Homo sapiens: one gene and its partner. The protein of the gene in region 1 purifies or fractionates together with the protein of each later gene. This does not show direct contact. Each region holds a gene or a part of one and is shown in the gene's direction. Other genes may lie near its edges.

Evidence for each region. The genes of interacting proteins can lie anywhere in the genome.
Region 2: the proteins of OLFML3 (region 1) and MAP7D2 purify together in Homo sapiens (affinity purification with mass spectrometry; 2 studies listed by BioGRID and IntAct, with this or other methods). This does not show direct contact.

What each region holds. Positions count from the first base shown.
Region 1 is NC_000001.11:113,974,939-113,983,003, forward strand, and holds OLFML3 (olfactomedin-like protein 3 isoform 1 precursor), read left to right. Parts: upstream 1-4,535; 5' UTR 4,536-4,578; coding exon 4,579-4,692; intron 4,693-4,785; exon of another isoform or gene 4,786-5,134; coding exon of another isoform or gene 5,135-5,188; intron 5,189-5,264; exon of another isoform or gene 5,265-5,393; coding exon 5,394-5,679; intron 5,680-6,010; coding exon 6,011-6,831; 3' UTR 6,832-7,315; downstream 7,316-8,065. UniProt on the Homo sapiens protein: Secreted scaffold protein that plays an essential role in dorsoventral patterning during early development. Stabilizes axial formation by restricting chordin (CHRD) activity on the dorsal side.
Region 2 is NC_000023.11:20,113,386-20,121,692, reverse strand, and holds the start of MAP7D2 (MAP7 domain-containing protein 2), read left to right. Parts: upstream 1-4,785; 5' UTR 4,786-4,813; coding exon 4,814-4,943; intron 4,944-5,052; exon of another isoform or gene 5,053-5,162; intron 5,163-8,307. UniProt on the Homo sapiens protein: Microtubule-stabilizing protein that plays a role in the control of cell motility and neurite outgrowth via direct binding to the microtubule. Acts as a critical cofactor for kinesin transport.

The sequences.
Region 1 (8,065 bases):
CAAAATGAACTGATACTTGTTGGAATGTATGTGAACTAATTGCAATTATATTAGAGCATATTACTGTAGTGCTGAATGAGCAGGGGCATTGCCTGCAAGGAGAGGAGACCCTTGGAATTGTTTTGCACAGGTGTGTCTGGTGAGGAGTTTTTCAGTGTGTGTCTCTTCCTTCCCTTTCTTCCTCCTTCCCTTATTGTAGTGCCTTATATGATAATGTAGTGGTTAATAGAGTTTACAGTGAGCTTGCCTTAGGATGGACCAGCAAGCCCCCGTGGACCCTAAGTTGTTCACCGGGATTTATCAGAACAGGATTAGTAGCTGTATTGTGTAATGCATTGTTCTCAGTTTCCCTGCCAACATTGAAAAATAAAAACAGCAGCTTTTCTCCTTTACCACCACCTCTACCCCTTTCCATTTTGGATTCTCGGCTGAGTTCTCACAGAAGCATTTTCCCCATGTGGCTCTCTCACTGTGCGTTGCTACCTTGCTTCTGTGAGAATTCAGGAAGCAGGTGAGAGGAGTCAAGCCAATATTAAATATGCATTCTTTTAAAGTATGTGCAATCACTTTTAGAATGAATTTTTTTTTCCTTTTCCCATGTGGCAGTCCTTCCTGCACATAGTTGACATTCCTAGTAAAATATTTGCTTGTTGAAAAAAACATGTTAACAGATGTGTTTATACCAAAGAGCCTGTTGTATTGCTTACCATGTCCCCATACTATGAGGAGAAGTTTTGTGGTGCCGCTGGTGACAAGGAACTCACAGAAAGGTTTCTTAGCTGGTGAAGAATATAGAGAAGGAACCAAAGCCTGTTGAGTCATTGAGGCTTTTGAGGTTTCTTTTTTAACAGCTTGTATAGTCTTGGGGCCCTTCAAGCTGTGAAATTGTCCTTGTACTCTCAGCTCCTGCATGGATCTGGGTCAAGTAGAAGGTACTGGGGATGGGGACATTCCTGCCCATAAAGGATTTGGGGAAAGAAGATTAATCCTAAAATACAGGTGTGTTCCATCTGAATTGAAAATGATATATTTGAGATATAATTTTAGGACTGGTTCTGTGTAGATAGAGATGGTGTCAAGGAGGTGCAGGATGGAGATGGGAGATTTCATGGAGCCTGGTCAGCCAGCTCTGTACCAGGTTGAACACCGAGGAGCTGTCAAAGTATTTGGAGTTTCTTCATTGTAAGGAGTAAGGGCTTCCAAGATGGGGCAGGTAGTCCGTACAGCCTACCAGGAACATGTTGTGTTTTCTTTATTTTTTAAAATCATTATATTGAGTTGTGTTTTCAGCACTATATTGGTCAAGATAGCCAAGCAGTTTGTATAATTTCTGTCACTAGTGTCATACAGTTTTCTGGTCAACATGTGTGATCTTTGTGTCTCCTTTTTGCCAAGCACATTCTGATTTTCTTGTTGGAACACAGGTCTAGTTTCTAAAGGACAAATTTTTTGTTCCTTGTCTTTTTTCTGTAAGGGACAAGATTTGTTGTTTTTGTAAGAAATGAGATGCAGGAAAGAAAACCAAATCCCATTCCTGCACCCCAGTCCAATAAGCAGATACCACTTAAGATAGGAGTCTAAACTCCACAGAAAAGGATAATACCAAGAGCTTGTATTGTTACCTTAGTCACTTGCCTAGCAGTGTGTGGCTTTAAAAACTAGAGATTTTTCAGTCTTAGTCTGCAAACTGGCATTTCCGATTTTCCAGCATAAAAATCCACCTGTGTCTGCTGAATGTGTATGTATGTGCTCACTGTGGCTTTAGATTCTGTCCCTGGGGTTAGCCCTGTTGGCCCTGACAGGAAGGGAGGAAGCCTGGTGAATTTAGTGAGCAGCTGGCCTGGGTCACAGTGACCTGACCTCAAACCAGCTTAAGGCTTTAAGTCCTCTCTCAGAACTTGGCATTTCCAACTTCTTCCTTTCCGGGTGAGAGAAGAAGCGGAGAAGGGTTCAGTGTAGCCACTCTGGGCTCATAGGGACACTTGGTCACTCCAGAGTTTTTAATAGCTCCCAGGAGGTGATATTATTTTCAGTGCTCAGCTGAAATACCAACCCCAGGAATAAGAACTCCATTTCAAACAGTTCTGGCCATTCTGAGCCTGCTTTTGTGATTGCTCATCCATTGTCCTCCACTAGAGGGGCTAAGCTTGACTGCCCTTAGCCAGGCAAGCACAGTAATGTGTGTTTTGTTCAGCATTATTATGCAAAAATTCACTAGTTGAGATGGTTTGTTTTAGGATAGGAAATGAAATTGCCTCTCAGTGACAGGAGTGGCCCGAGCCTGCTTCCTATTTTGATTTTTTTTTTTTTTAACTGATAGATGGTGCAGCATGTCTACATGGTTGTTTGTTGCTAAACTTTATATAATGTGTGGTTTCAATTCAGCTTGAAAAATAATCTCACTACATGTAGCAGTACATTATATGTACATTATATGTAATGTTAGTATTTCTGCTTTGAATCCTTGATATTGCAATGGAATTCCTACTTTATTAAATGTATTTGATATGCTAGTTATTGTGTGCGATTTAAACTTTTTTTGCTTTCTCCCTTTTTTTGGTTGTGCGCTTTCTTTTACAACAAGCCTCTAGAAACAGATAGTTTCTGAGAATTACTGAGCTATGTTTGTAATGCAGATGTACTTAGGGAGTATGTAAAATAATCATTTTAACAAAAGAAATAGATATTTAAAATTTAATACTAACTATGGGAAAAGGGTCCATTGTGTAAAACATAGTTTATCTTTGGATTCAATGTTTGTCTTTGGTTTTACAAAGTAGCTTGTATTTTCAGTATTTTCTACATAATATGGTAAAATGTAGAGCAATTGCAATGCATCAATAAAATGGGTAAATTTTCTGACTTATGTGGCTGTTTTTGACTTCTGTTATAGGATATAAAGGGGATCAATAAATGACATCTTTGAAAGTGGCTAAGCATATTGTATTTGAACATCAGTAGAGTACTAGAGACAATTTCATTCTTCACACAAATCTCCATACTGGAAATGAATAGGGTTTGGCAGGGAATACTTCCCAAGAATGCAGTGTCCAGGGTCCTTACTTCACATCATCTGGATCTGACCCTTTGAAAGAGGTAGAAGACTTCTGAGACCGGCTAATTAAGCTTTGTTTCCTCATATGTTTTGCCAGATAGCAGTAGCAGAATGAAAAGATGAGTAACCACAGGAAGCTGCTATTTTTCCCCTCCTTTCAAACTGTACTGTTAGAGTCATGGTCCTTTTTACAGAAGGAACCTCTCATCAGATTCTGTTGATTCTAAAGTGAATAGAATTTCTCCCGATAAAGAAATAGGGGTTTGTTTCGATTAATGACTGCAGGTCTCTGAGTAAATGCTCTATTTGATTTTTTTTTTCGGCCCGTGTGTCTACCTTATGGCCCAAGTCTACCTTATGGTGGCCATTAATTCATTTTGGGCTCCTGCAGCCTTAGTTGGGATATAGAAATGAGAAACACTCAGAAATACCCTTTTGGACCACAACCAAGAGAAATAACCAATAGTCTTTTCTCCCAGTGGTAAGGAAGTCAGAATACATTGATCTAGACTGCAACAACATATATATATATATCAGATTCCGCCCCCCCGCAATACATGAATGTATAGTAAATTAGTGTGAACTCACTGAACACTCCTCAGTTTTGGTGAGAGACTATATCTGGCCTCTTTCAAGCAAAGGAAAGCCATGTAAAACAGCGCTGCTGTCAGCCTTAACTTCCAGACGATCGAGTTAATTTACTAACTTCTCAGTGACCTGTTTTTTTTTTTTTTTTAATCTCAGTTATATTTTCTTCCTTGGGCTAAATCAGATATTTGCATAGCCCCCAAAGTAGTAATTGGATAGTCTTGGGGGAAATATGCATTTCAGTGGTGAAAACCCCTGTAAATTCAATATATTTGGCTTTTGTGGAAAATTTTCCTCATGGGGTGAAGTCTAAGCCTTAGTTTCTGTATTATCATGAGAGATGACACCAGCTGCTTAGCACAAGGTGGCGCCAATGAGCTTTAGAATAAGTTGGGCTTGACCACTTGGGCCATTGTTTTCCTGCTTCCTCCCTTCAAGCCTCACCTCCCCAGCTCCCAGCTTCTACTGAACAAGGCTGAAAACCCACTCTATTGCAGGGAAAGGGAAAGATTAATGAAAAATGTCAGTTTCTTAAGTCAGCACTGGTGAAACTTTCCTAAAACAGGAATGGCGTTTGCTGAGTTTTCTCTGGGGTCTCTGCTTTCTGCAGCTAGCTTCCCTGCTTGACTGCCTAGAAGGCCTCTGCTTTCGGGTTTCCATCTCTTTCCCCTCCAGAGGACCCTACAGCCTAGGCGGGAGGTGGTTAAGGCTTCTGGCTGCTGTGCAATGGGGCCATCTGTGTTTGATCAATCCTGGCGGAAAGGAGGGGGTGGGGGTTGTAAAGAGAACTGAAAGCATTCCAGAGTAGTGAGAGAGACCCAGAGATCAGGAGAGAAGGCACCGCCCCCACCCCGCCTCCAAAGCTAACCCTCGGGCTTGAGGGGAAGAGGCTGACTGTACGTTCCTTCTACTCTGGCACCACTCTCCAGGCTGCCATGGGGCCCAGCACCCCTCTCCTCATCTTGTTCCTTTTGTCATGGTCGGGACCCCTCCAAGGACAGCAGCACCACCTTGTGGAGTACATGGAACGCCGACTAGCTGCTTTAGAGGTGAGGGACCCCTTTCTCTTCTAGCCCCGCCTAGAAGGATTCCAGGGCTATTGGTTCAACCAGTTTGTTAGGGATCTGGGGATAACAAGAAAGGGCTCTGTTAGAGTCTACAGAAAATTCTCTCTTAATAAGAGGACCTTCGGAATGACAAGCCCTCCTCTTACCCCACATAGAACAATTCCAAAGCAAATCGACTTTTGCGTTTTACCTCTGGGATTAGATAGAATAAGGGGGCAGAGTGGAAACGAGAGCCAAAATTGTGGGGCTGCATCTCCAGAGAAGGTGATGATTCTGTTGAAGTTGGAGGTTCCCGGGGAATCTATAACTTCCTGTCTTTTTAACAGGTTGAGATCCGTAGCATTTTAGTGTCCGAGAGGATAATTGCTAAGGGAGCAGAGACCTCTTCACACCTTCATGCGCTTAGACCTGCCTAGAGGCTCAGATGGCTCAGTGGCACTGCTCACAGAGAACACAGGCTGGAGGACATGGAGTCGGGGTAGGGGCCTAGGTGAATCTCAGCTAGGCTCTTTGCACATTTAGCACCTCTGCACATCTGGTTTCCTTTTCTGCAGGAGTGGAAGGGGATATTGAAGCCTGGCTGAGTTTGCTCTTTTTTTCCCATTCCTGACTCCCGAGTTGGGCCTCTCCCTGCCTGGGAGTTGTAACCCTGCAGCCTCCCTCCTGATCCCCCATCCCTTCAGGAACGGCTGGCCCAGTGCCAGGACCAGAGTAGTCGGCATGCTGCTGAGCTGCGGGACTTCAAGAACAAGATGCTGCCACTGCTGGAGGTGGCAGAGAAGGAGCGGGAGGCACTCAGAACTGAGGCCGACACCATCTCCGGGAGAGTGGATCGTCTGGAGCGGGAGGTAGACTATCTGGAGACCCAGAACCCAGCTCTGCCCTGTGTAGAGTTTGATGAGAAGGTGACTGGAGGCCCTGGGACCAAAGGCAAGGGAAGAAGGAATGAGAAGTACGATATGGTGACAGGTAAATAATCTGAAAGCAGGCCCCTAACTCTTCTCAGAACCGATATTCTTCCTTCCTTGCTTCTTACTCTTTTTTTCGCTTTGTCCCAGTCCATTGTGGCTCTGTCTTCTGGAATCTGTTTTAGGGAAACCTCTGTAATGCCAGGTCTATTAAGGAGAGGTTCTGGGGATCCAGGCCGCTGTGGTACCCGCTCTTTCTCAATTCTCCCTAAGATTGGAGGCAACCACTGGGCAAATGCTCACTATTCTCCAGATCACCCACCCTGGGGGAGTTCCTGCTGGAGGCATCTAATTCTTGCCTCTATTTCCTTTTCCTGTGCTTTTCTCATCAGACTGTGGCTACACAATCTCTCAAGTGAGATCAATGAAGATTCTGAAGCGATTTGGTGGCCCAGCTGGTCTATGGACCAAGGATCCACTGGGGCAAACAGAGAAGATCTACGTGTTAGATGGGACACAGAATGACACAGCCTTTGTCTTCCCAAGGCTGCGTGACTTCACCCTTGCCATGGCTGCCCGGAAAGCTTCCCGAGTCCGGGTGCCCTTCCCCTGGGTAGGCACAGGGCAGCTGGTATATGGTGGCTTTCTTTATTTTGCTCGGAGGCCTCCTGGAAGACCTGGTGGAGGTGGTGAGATGGAGAACACTTTGCAGCTAATCAAATTCCACCTGGCAAACCGAACAGTGGTGGACAGCTCAGTATTCCCAGCAGAGGGGCTGATCCCCCCCTACGGCTTGACAGCAGACACCTACATCGACCTGGCAGCTGATGAGGAAGGTCTTTGGGCTGTCTATGCCACCCGGGAGGATGACAGGCACTTGTGTCTGGCCAAGTTAGATCCACAGACACTGGACACAGAGCAGCAGTGGGACACACCATGTCCCAGAGAGAATGCTGAGGCTGCCTTTGTCATCTGTGGGACCCTCTATGTCGTCTATAACACCCGTCCTGCCAGTCGGGCCCGCATCCAGTGCTCCTTTGATGCCAGCGGCACCCTGACCCCTGAACGGGCAGCACTCCCTTATTTTCCCCGCAGATATGGTGCCCATGCCAGCCTCCGCTATAACCCCCGAGAACGCCAGCTCTATGCCTGGGATGATGGCTACCAGATTGTCTATAAGCTGGAGATGAGGAAGAAAGAGGAGGAGGTTTGAGGAGCTAGCCTTGTTTTTTGCATCTTTCTCACTCCCATACATTTATATTATATCCCCACTAAATTTCTTGTTCCTCATTCTTCAAATGTGGGCCAGTTGTGGCTCAAATCCTCTATATTTTTAGCCAATGGCAATCAAATTCTTTCAGCTCCTTTGTTTCATACGGAACTCCAGATCCTGAGTAATCCTTTTAGAGCCCGAAGAGTCAAAACCCTCAATGTTCCCTCCTGCTCTCCTGCCCCATGTCAACAAATTTCAGGCTAAGGATGCCCCAGACCCAGGGCTCTAACCTTGTATGCGGGCAGGCCCAGGGAGCAGGCAGCAGTGTTCTTCCCCTCAGAGTGACTTGGGGAGGGAGAAATAGGAGGAGACGTCCAGCTCTGTCCTCTCTTCCTCACTCCTCCCTTCAGTGTCCTGAGGAACAGGACTTTCTCCACATTGTTTTGTATTGCAACATTTTGCATTAAAAGGAAAATCCACTGCTCCTCTCCTGTGTTTGTTTGGGGTAGCCCTCAGATCAAACTTCCCCCTGACCATCCAGTTTCTCCCTCCCAACCCATCCCCACTCCTTGAGCCATATTAAAGACTTGGGCGGGGCTCCCTTTGCTGAGGAAGAGTTTACTGTGAGGCGCCTGGGGGAGGTGGCAGAATCCCGCCACTTTAGGAGGCTGGACGAAAGGCCTCCTTCCACACCCACCGCCATCCACAGCAGCCAATCCACAGCAGCCATCCTAGAACCTCAGTGGCACCGTGCCTCTGGCTGTGAGACACTGGGGCCCAGGGCAGAGATTCCAGTTCCGATTCTCAGAGGATTTTGAACTACAAAATGCATGTTAGTTGCATTGCATTCTAGTGTGGAAACCAGAGCCCTGAATGCCTGTGTTTTTAGTAAGAACTGAAGTCTCCCCTCTAAAGTGGACTCTGCCCCGCACCCCAGACCTCCACTCCCACCTCCAGCGTTGTGCTCCTGCAGGGCCAGGTTGCACAATCATTCTTGGTCTGGACCGCTCTGATTTTCCTGCTGCCACGGCGTCTGCGGTTTGTGCAGGGAGGAGGGGCAGTGACCGTGTCCCAGATGTTGGCCTTACACGGTCTGCAGCCTATTCTTGCTTTCCTTTTCTCCACTCTCATCACCCTCACCTACCCACTCCAGCCCTGAACCTGGCTGAAGCCCGTCAGGACTTCTGGAAACTTAACCCTCTCTGGCCCATACCCTGGCCTCTGGCGTTGGATT
Region 2 (8,307 bases), on another chromosome or scaffold:
TGATCTTCCATATGTTGACCCTTTTCATTCTACAGTATTAAGATGCCACATTTCATTAATGTCACTGTCTCTTCAGAAAAGTTCTTACTTTAGTGAAGTTGTCAAGCTAATGGTAGCAGATACTAGTTTTGTAAAACTTTTTTCATGCTGGAAAGCCCAAATTTTATCACCACCAACAAATATGGTCACTTGTTTCCCTTGAAGTGTCAGGCTAATTTTATTCGTTTTTGCAAAAATGTTGAACACAAATCCAAGTTTGAATTACCAGCTTATCAGCTTTTCTTTCAAGTAAAAATGATATTTCATGAAAGTGTCCAGTTGTTTGGAATACAAATTATCACAAATGCTTTTCCTTGAGACAACTGCTGTACATTGGTATGCAGAAGAGGTTTGTGTAGTATTCCCCACTTTGTCACATGAAATATTGAAAAGATGTGTACTCAAAGGTTAGGATGTACCAGTGTATGAGATTAATCTCTTCAGGTTAATAAATTTTTATTGCATTGTCAGAGACACTAACTTTTTTTTTGAGATGGAGTCTCCGTTGCCCAGGCTGGAGTGCAATAGTGCAATCTCAGCTCACTGACCTCTGCCTCCCGGGTTCAAGCGATTCTCATGTCTCAGCTTCCCAAGTAGCTGGGATTACAGGCATGCGCCACCACACCTGGCCAATTTTTATATTTTTAGTATGGTTTCACCATGTTGGCTAGGCCGGTCTGGAACTCCTGACCTCAAGTGATCTACTCGCCTCCACCTCCCAAAGTGTTGGGATTACAGATGTAAGCTACTGCACTCAGCCATTTATTTATTCATTCATTTATTTATTTATTTAGAGACAGGATCTTGCTCTGTTGCCCAGGGTGAGTGCAGTGACGCCATATCACAGCTCACTACAGCATCAACCTCCCTGGCTCAAGTGATCCTCCTACCTCAGCCTCCCAAGTAGTGGGGACTACAGGTGCACCACCAAGCCCGAATGTTTTGTTTTTATTTTTTAGAGATGGGGGTCCCACAGTTTTGTCCAGGCTGGTCTCTAACACCTGGATGCAAGTGCTTCTCCCACCTTGGCTTCCCAAAGTGCTGATATTACAGGTGTAAGACACTATGCCCGGCCAAAAACCTCTTTTTTGAGACAGGGTTTTGCTCTTGTTGCCCAGGCTGGGGTGCAATGGCGCGATCTTGGCTCACCGCAACCTCGGCCTCCTGGGTTCAAGTGATTCTCCTGCCTCAGCCTCCTGAGTAGCTGTGATTACAGGCATGCGCCAGCACACCCGGCTAATTTTGTATCTTTAGTAGAGATGGGGTTTCCCCATATTGGTCAGGCTGGTCTCAACTCCCGACCACAGGTGATCTGGCCGCCTCAGCCTCTCAAAGTGCTGGGACTACAGGGGTGAGCCACTGCGCCCGGCCATGCTATAGATTTTTATAGGAAGTTAGTGTAGTGGGAAAAGCACGGAAAACTCGAAAGTCATTTTTTTTAAAAGCTTAAATAGAAATTACACTATTGGATATTCTGTCATAATGTCGAAAATGTCAATTTTCTCCAAATTAACCTCTGACTTCAATATAATTACATTTAGTATTACAGCAGGCCTTGGTGGGAGATTGCAAAAACATCCTAAAATATATTCATGTGGAAATACTGAATTTCAAAGAATTCTAGAAACACTGCTAAGAGGGAATTCAACAAATAAATTGCACCCTAAGCCATAGTAGTGAATAATAGATGCAGTAACAGGAAGATCAGAATAGATAGCTCAGAAGCTATCTCACCTACTATGGAAATTAGGTACTTGATTTTTTAAAAAGTGGCTTCAAAAATTACTGGGGAAAGGATAGGTAAGCAGGTAGTGCTGACCAAACTACACTTCGGAGAGAAAAGTGGATTTGGCTCTTTACCTCACCCTATACAGAAAAATTGCTTAAGAGTAAAGCATTTTTTACTTTTTTTTTTTTTTTTTTTTTTTTTTACGTTTTTTACTATAAGCATGAGGGCAATGGGGAGTATCTTGGGACTAGGGAAGTTCGTATTAAGACTTCTTAAAATGCAAACCATAAGGTGAAAAATTTATGGATTTTATCACTTCGTAATCATTATGAGATCAGATCAAGCAAGAACCATCAATGGATGCTAAATCTAGAGAGAATTTTTGACGAAGAGTAAGTACCTGCATAGCCTTAAGGTGCCTCACCACAGTGCATTTTGCAAGAGGAAAACTACCTCTAAGGTGGAGGAACAGCCAATGGAGAGAAAATTACTGTATCCATGTGAAACTTAAGTTGGTAGTCAACTCTAGTATGTGTAACAGAACATTCATAATCTTAGGAAATACACATGGAAGTATTTGTAATGTAACTTTCAAAAACAGTTGATAAAAAATAGGGCAATATTGTAAATGGAGTAAACATGTTAATAGGATTTTGTCATAAAAATTAAGGAAAATTTTACCAATCTTAAAAAGCTTAGTTGGCTAGGATAAAATATTTGCAACATTTAAACCAGAAATTATCTAGAATACAAGAAACTCCTGGAAATCAACCAGAGTAGCCCAGTGGAAAGGTGGGCAAGGATTGAACAGGGAATTTACAGAAGGGTAAACCAGATAGAATGGCTAATCATTTTGTGTAGATTGAGAACAATGCCAAGAGAGGAAAAACAAATAGAATGATAGCTTTTATGCAGTGTCATTTATATACAATTAAAATACATGCGTATCTTCAAAACAGTATTTCAAAATTGCAGCTGCAAAGATATCAGAGGAGGTGTTTATAATTAGGGAGAGGAATGGAAAGTAAAAGGACCCCAAAAATAGAATAAAAGTAGAGAGGGATGCTACACACACATGTCCATGAGCTCAAGAGTTGGATGAATTGAACTCACCAAAGGTCCCTAAGATAAGGGAGGAGAAAGTGACAGCTCCCACGCTCTTAATTTGGCTTAATCTCAATGTGTTCGAGTTTTCATTACAGCTCAGGGTACCAGCCCCCACCTGCTCACTTTCCTACTCATTTATGTTTAAACTTCCTGGCTTTCTCACCACACTTGAACCCTACTCCCGGCACACCTTTGGGCGTGTCAGGAACACGTTCATCACAAACATTTTTTGTGCCACAAAGGGACTTTCCCAGCTTTGGCCAAGAGTACAGGTGCCCATTCCTGAGAGTTTCAGCTTCACATTAAAAAAAAAAAAATGAGACATAATTAAGGGACCATAAAATTCACCCGCTTAAAATGTACAATTCAATAGTTTTTAGTATACTTAGTTGTGCACTCATCATAATCCTAGAATATTTTCATCCAAAAAAGAAAACCTGTACCCATTATTCAGCTTCATTTTTAATCGTGTATATCTCCCCCCAGGAGTGGTAATAAAACTTTCAGGCTGGTCACCTTCCAACGAGAAAAAACATGCAGCCTGGGGCTCCATGGGAACGGGTTATCACTTGGCAGGCCTGGGTAAACAAAAGGCTTGAGCCGGCCCTGCCAAGATGTCTTTTTCAATGTTTTTGAAAAGATAATAAATGTGCATGGCAGTGGTAAAAGTGCCTACTTAGGAGGCAACCCGTTTAGCAGTTTCTTGTGTGTCTTCTCGGAGAGATCCTCCTCAGAGGTTTTTTGTTTTATTTTGCTTTTGAGACAAGGTCTCTGTCGCCCAGGCTGGAGTGCAGTGGCGTGATCACTGCAGTCTCGACCTCCCGGGCTCAAGCGATCTTCCCGCCTCAGCCTCCCAAGTAGCTGGGACCACAGATGAGTCGCCATGCCCAGCTAATTTTTAAAATTTTTTTGTAGAGACGGGGGTCTCGAACTCCTTAGCTCAATCAATCCGCCCGCGTCAGCCTCCCGAAGTGTTGGGATTACAGGCGGGAGCCACCACACCCGGCATCGCGGAGGTTTCAGTCAGCATTATTTACGCCTCAGGAGAAGAGGAACCAAATTGGCTGCGGAGTAGGGTGTCGTTGAAAGGCCTAGGTCGGCCTACGGCGCGTGCCGCTGCCTCTTAGTTGAAGATCGACCCCAATAGCTTGCTGCTGTCCCTCTCTGGGTGACCGCACGCTGAGGGTGGGGCGTCACTAAACACTGATTACCCGTGCGCCTCGAAAACTGGAACCTAACTATGCATGGAGGGCGGGTCCTCTGGCGTCTGCACAGATGTCACTGGCCCAACTGGCACCCACCTGGGGGCCTAGCCAGAAATTGTTCCCAAGGCTGCATTGCTGAGTTTGCATGCAGACACCCAGTGAGTGTAAGCGTGTGCGTGCTGAGTGAGCACGTGTGTGCGCGTTATGTGCTCTGTGTTCACACATTGAGTGAGGATGTGTGTGCACGGTGTCTGAGAAACTGCACCCTACATCTACACACGCTTTGAGTGTGTATCTGCTACTGTGAGAAGATGCATTTACGCTGGGTGTGCACGTTGTGTGTGCATGTTGCATGTAAGCATCGTATGAAGAACTGTGTGCGTACGCACGCCTTCTGTGTGTGCACTGTGTACAGCAGCGTGTAAGGACGCGTGCACGCCCGTACGCGCTGTGTGAGGACTGTTGTGCACATTGCATGCACACGCTACAAGCGCGCGCCGCGTGAGAACCGGTGCGCCTATCGCACGTGCACGCCCTGCGTGCGCTGTGCGTGGAAGCGGTGCGCCTATCGCACGTGCACGCCTTGCGTGCGCTGTGCGTGGTAACCGGTGCGCTTATCGCACGTGCACGCCCTGCGCGCGTGCTGCGTGAGGACGCGTGCGCATGCGGACGCGCGCGGGTTCGGTGCGGCGCGGCGGGCTTGGCAGTGCGCCTGTGCGGCCGGCGCATCCCGATGGAGCGCGGCGGCGGCGGCTCCGGGACGGGATCCCGGCCTGAGGGGACTGCGCGGGGAACCTCTCTCCCAGGGAAGATCGCAGAACCGGGCGCGGTGCGGACCTCTCAGCCCAACTACCGGCCTCAAGGTATTATCCCCAGAGTGTGGCGGGCGCCCGAGGGCTTCGGGTTCCTGTGGGGGGGCGGGCCCGGCGGCCCAGGGCAAAGGTCCTCGAGCGTGGGGGGAAGGGGCACGGCGCAGAGCTGAGATAAACGCCCTTTCCCTGGCCCAGGATCGTCCGGACGTGCATCCAAGGGCCGCACCCCTCTCTGTGCGAGTGGCGGGGTTCTTTCTTGGGGCGACCTGGGTGAGTGGGTACACATGGGGGGTGGCTTAGGGTGGGCGGCAGGTGTGTTTGGGATGGAGGTGCCTGAGGGGGTGCTGCGGGTCCAGTCCCCGTCCTCGAGGAGCAGCCGGCATGGGGGTCGTTAGGATAAACCGAGCGGGGTTCTGGGGTTGCCCCGGCCTCCGCGCGCGCTCTCTCTGCGTTCTGGGAAACGCGCGCGAGCGCCGCTGCAGCCCGCGGCGAAGGTGGCCCAGCTTCGCGCCTCTTGGCGTTTCCAGGGGGCAAAATCGGCGTGTCACCCATTGGCAGAGGCAGATTCGCCCGGGCGGCCAGGCGTCTGCCCCGGACCGGGTGCTCCTCCCGCCCGGATGCGCTCCCTGTCTTGGGAACGCTGCTCAGGTGGCCGGGCCGCGGCCCTCAATCGAGGCAGCGGGGCAAACAAGGCTCTCAGCCCTCGAGGCTGCCGATGCTGGGAGCCATGGAGGGCTGGTCCCTGGCTGCCCAGAAGCCAGCGAGGCAGCGGAGGAGACTGTGAGGACATTTGGCAGGATTTTAGATAAGCAGGTCTGATGCTAACGTTCTGTAAAGTGGTTGCAGGTAGTGCGGGGGTGTAAGCAGCATGGAAACCGATTTCATGCTGTTTTTCCTGACAACAACTTTTTTATTTTTAGTTAATAAGGCAGGCTATTTTTAAAACATTTTTTATTGCAGTCTAATATGCATTTAAAAAACCACACAAAACTATAATTCGATGAATTATCACATAGTGAAGATGGGAGTATTTTATATACGATGGGCCAAGAAAAGGAAAGAAATCAAGAGAAATCTTCTTAAAACACGCTTTTTCACTGGGGTTGAGGGGGCGAGGTAGTATTTTCTGACTGGGCCTTCAGTTGCATCATTCTTAGGAGGAGGAGATAGCTTAAATCATTTCCAGTTTGTATTTTTCATTATGCTATTTTAAAGGCAGAATTCATTAACTGTCACAGGATAACGTTATAACTACCTTTGAAATGTGTGCTTTTGTTTTTATCCTTTTTGCTTGAAACACTCAAGCTGCATCTGCTAGGGAAGAACCTGGAAACTACCCACCAGAACGACCCTCCGTGGCAGAGGCGACCTTGTATAATAAAACACTGAAAAGGAGAGGTTGTTTCAGTTTGCATTTTTATTTGGTTGAGAGCTTAAATAATAGTTTGTTTCGATGTTCTGTTGTACTCATGAGAGGTGGGGAGGGGCGGTATGATTGGGTTTTCAGTGTATCTTGGATTTTATTTGAAGGAACTTAAGGGGTTTTTTTTTTTTTTTTTTTAATGGAAACAAAATTGGGGAAGGGGAGGAGGTACTTTTGCGGGGGAGATTCTTAATAAGTTCTGTTTGGAAACTATTGTAGAATCATTTAATGCACTCTTCTGATATTAAGATTAGCTTAAGGATATCTTCCTTCATTTGAAATTGGAAATATAGAAAAATATGTGTGAAGGTTTAAAATGTGAAATAAGCACCTATGTGCATTAAGGTTGGTATGGTAAAATTGGAATGTTTAATTTAGGTGCCAGGTGATACCACCATTTGTTGTTTGGGGGAGTTAGCAAGGCCAGGTACTTAAGTAAAGTCTCCTTAGAAAAATTATGATTTTGAGGTTTTATAATTATCTGTCCTGGATACTGATCATTCTTGGTTACCCAGGCCCTTAGCATTTGGGACCCATTCCTAATGAGACTTAACCTGCTTTTCTAGAGAGTCAACCATTGTTCCTAAGCTTGGGCTGGGTGCTGTCAAGGCTGCAAAATACAGAAAGACCTGAGATGTTTAGGCTGTCCAACAATTTTGTGTTGCACACTTAGGGGATATGAGTTGGCAAGTGGTTTTCCTGGGAGCTGTGTAAAAGACGGAAAGGAAATACCGCTGGTGGTTTCCTCTAGCAACAGGTTCTTCCGATATTGAAATCCTGTGCATGTTCCCATTACCCCCTAGTGATGCCTTCTTTCTTTCCTTTTAATTACCTCTGAATAGAAATTACCAGATCTACTGTCCATTTTAGTGCTTGTCTGATACACATAGTATAACAAATGAGCAAGTGCTTGTTTCAATCTGCTTAACAACCTTTAACCAGCAGATAGAATCACCAGATCTCAACCATATTTCCTTTCTTTCTTTTTAGATGAAGTCTCACTCTGTTGTCCATGCTGGAGTGCAGTGGCACAATCTTAGCTCACTGCAACTTCTGCGCCACCATGCCCAGGATCCCAGCACTTTGGGAGGCCGAGGCAGGTGGATCACTTGAGGTCAGGAGTTTGAGACCAGTCTGGCTAACATGGTGAAACCCTATCTCTACTAAAAATACGAACATTAGCCGGGCCTGGTGGCGCATGCTTGTAATCGTAGCTACTTGGGAGGCTGAGGCATAGGATCGCTTGAACCCAGGAAGCGGAGGTTGCAGTGAGCTGACCTCGCGCCACTGTACTCCAGCCTGGGTGACAGAGCGAGACTCCGTCTCGAAAGAAAAACAAAATAGGGTGGGGCCTGGAGATAGAGAGTAGGTGGTTATTGGAGACTGCGAAGGGTACTGGGGGGTGGGAAGGAGGTAGGAATGGTTAATGGGTATAAAAAAATAGAATGAATTAATAAGGCCTGGTATTTGATAGCACAACAGGGTAATTATAGTCAATAATAATTTAATTGTTCATTTAAAAATAACTACTAGTATGACTGGATTGTTTGTAACACAAAGGATAAATGCTTGAGGGGGATGGCTAACCTGTTTTGCATGATATGATTATTTCATATTGCATGCCTGTACCAAAACATCTCATGTACCCCAGAAATATATGCACCTACTACCTACTATGTAGCCACAAAAATTAAAAATTGTAAAATAAAAAAAAAAGTAGAGTGGGCCCGAGTAGCAAAGGCATTGGGTCCCCAAGAAATCGGAGTTCTTCATCCTTTTTCAAAGTTGTGTTTAAAACCATTCTTGAACGCTTTAATCCTAAAACTGTTCAGATCGCTGGGCGTGGTGGCTCACGCCTGTAATCCCAGCACTTTGGGAGGCCGAGGCGGGCGGATCACGAGGTCAGGAGTTCAAGACCAGGCCGGCCAAGATGGTGAAACCCTGTCTCTACTAAAAATACAAAAATTAGCCAGGTATGGTGGCAGGCACCTG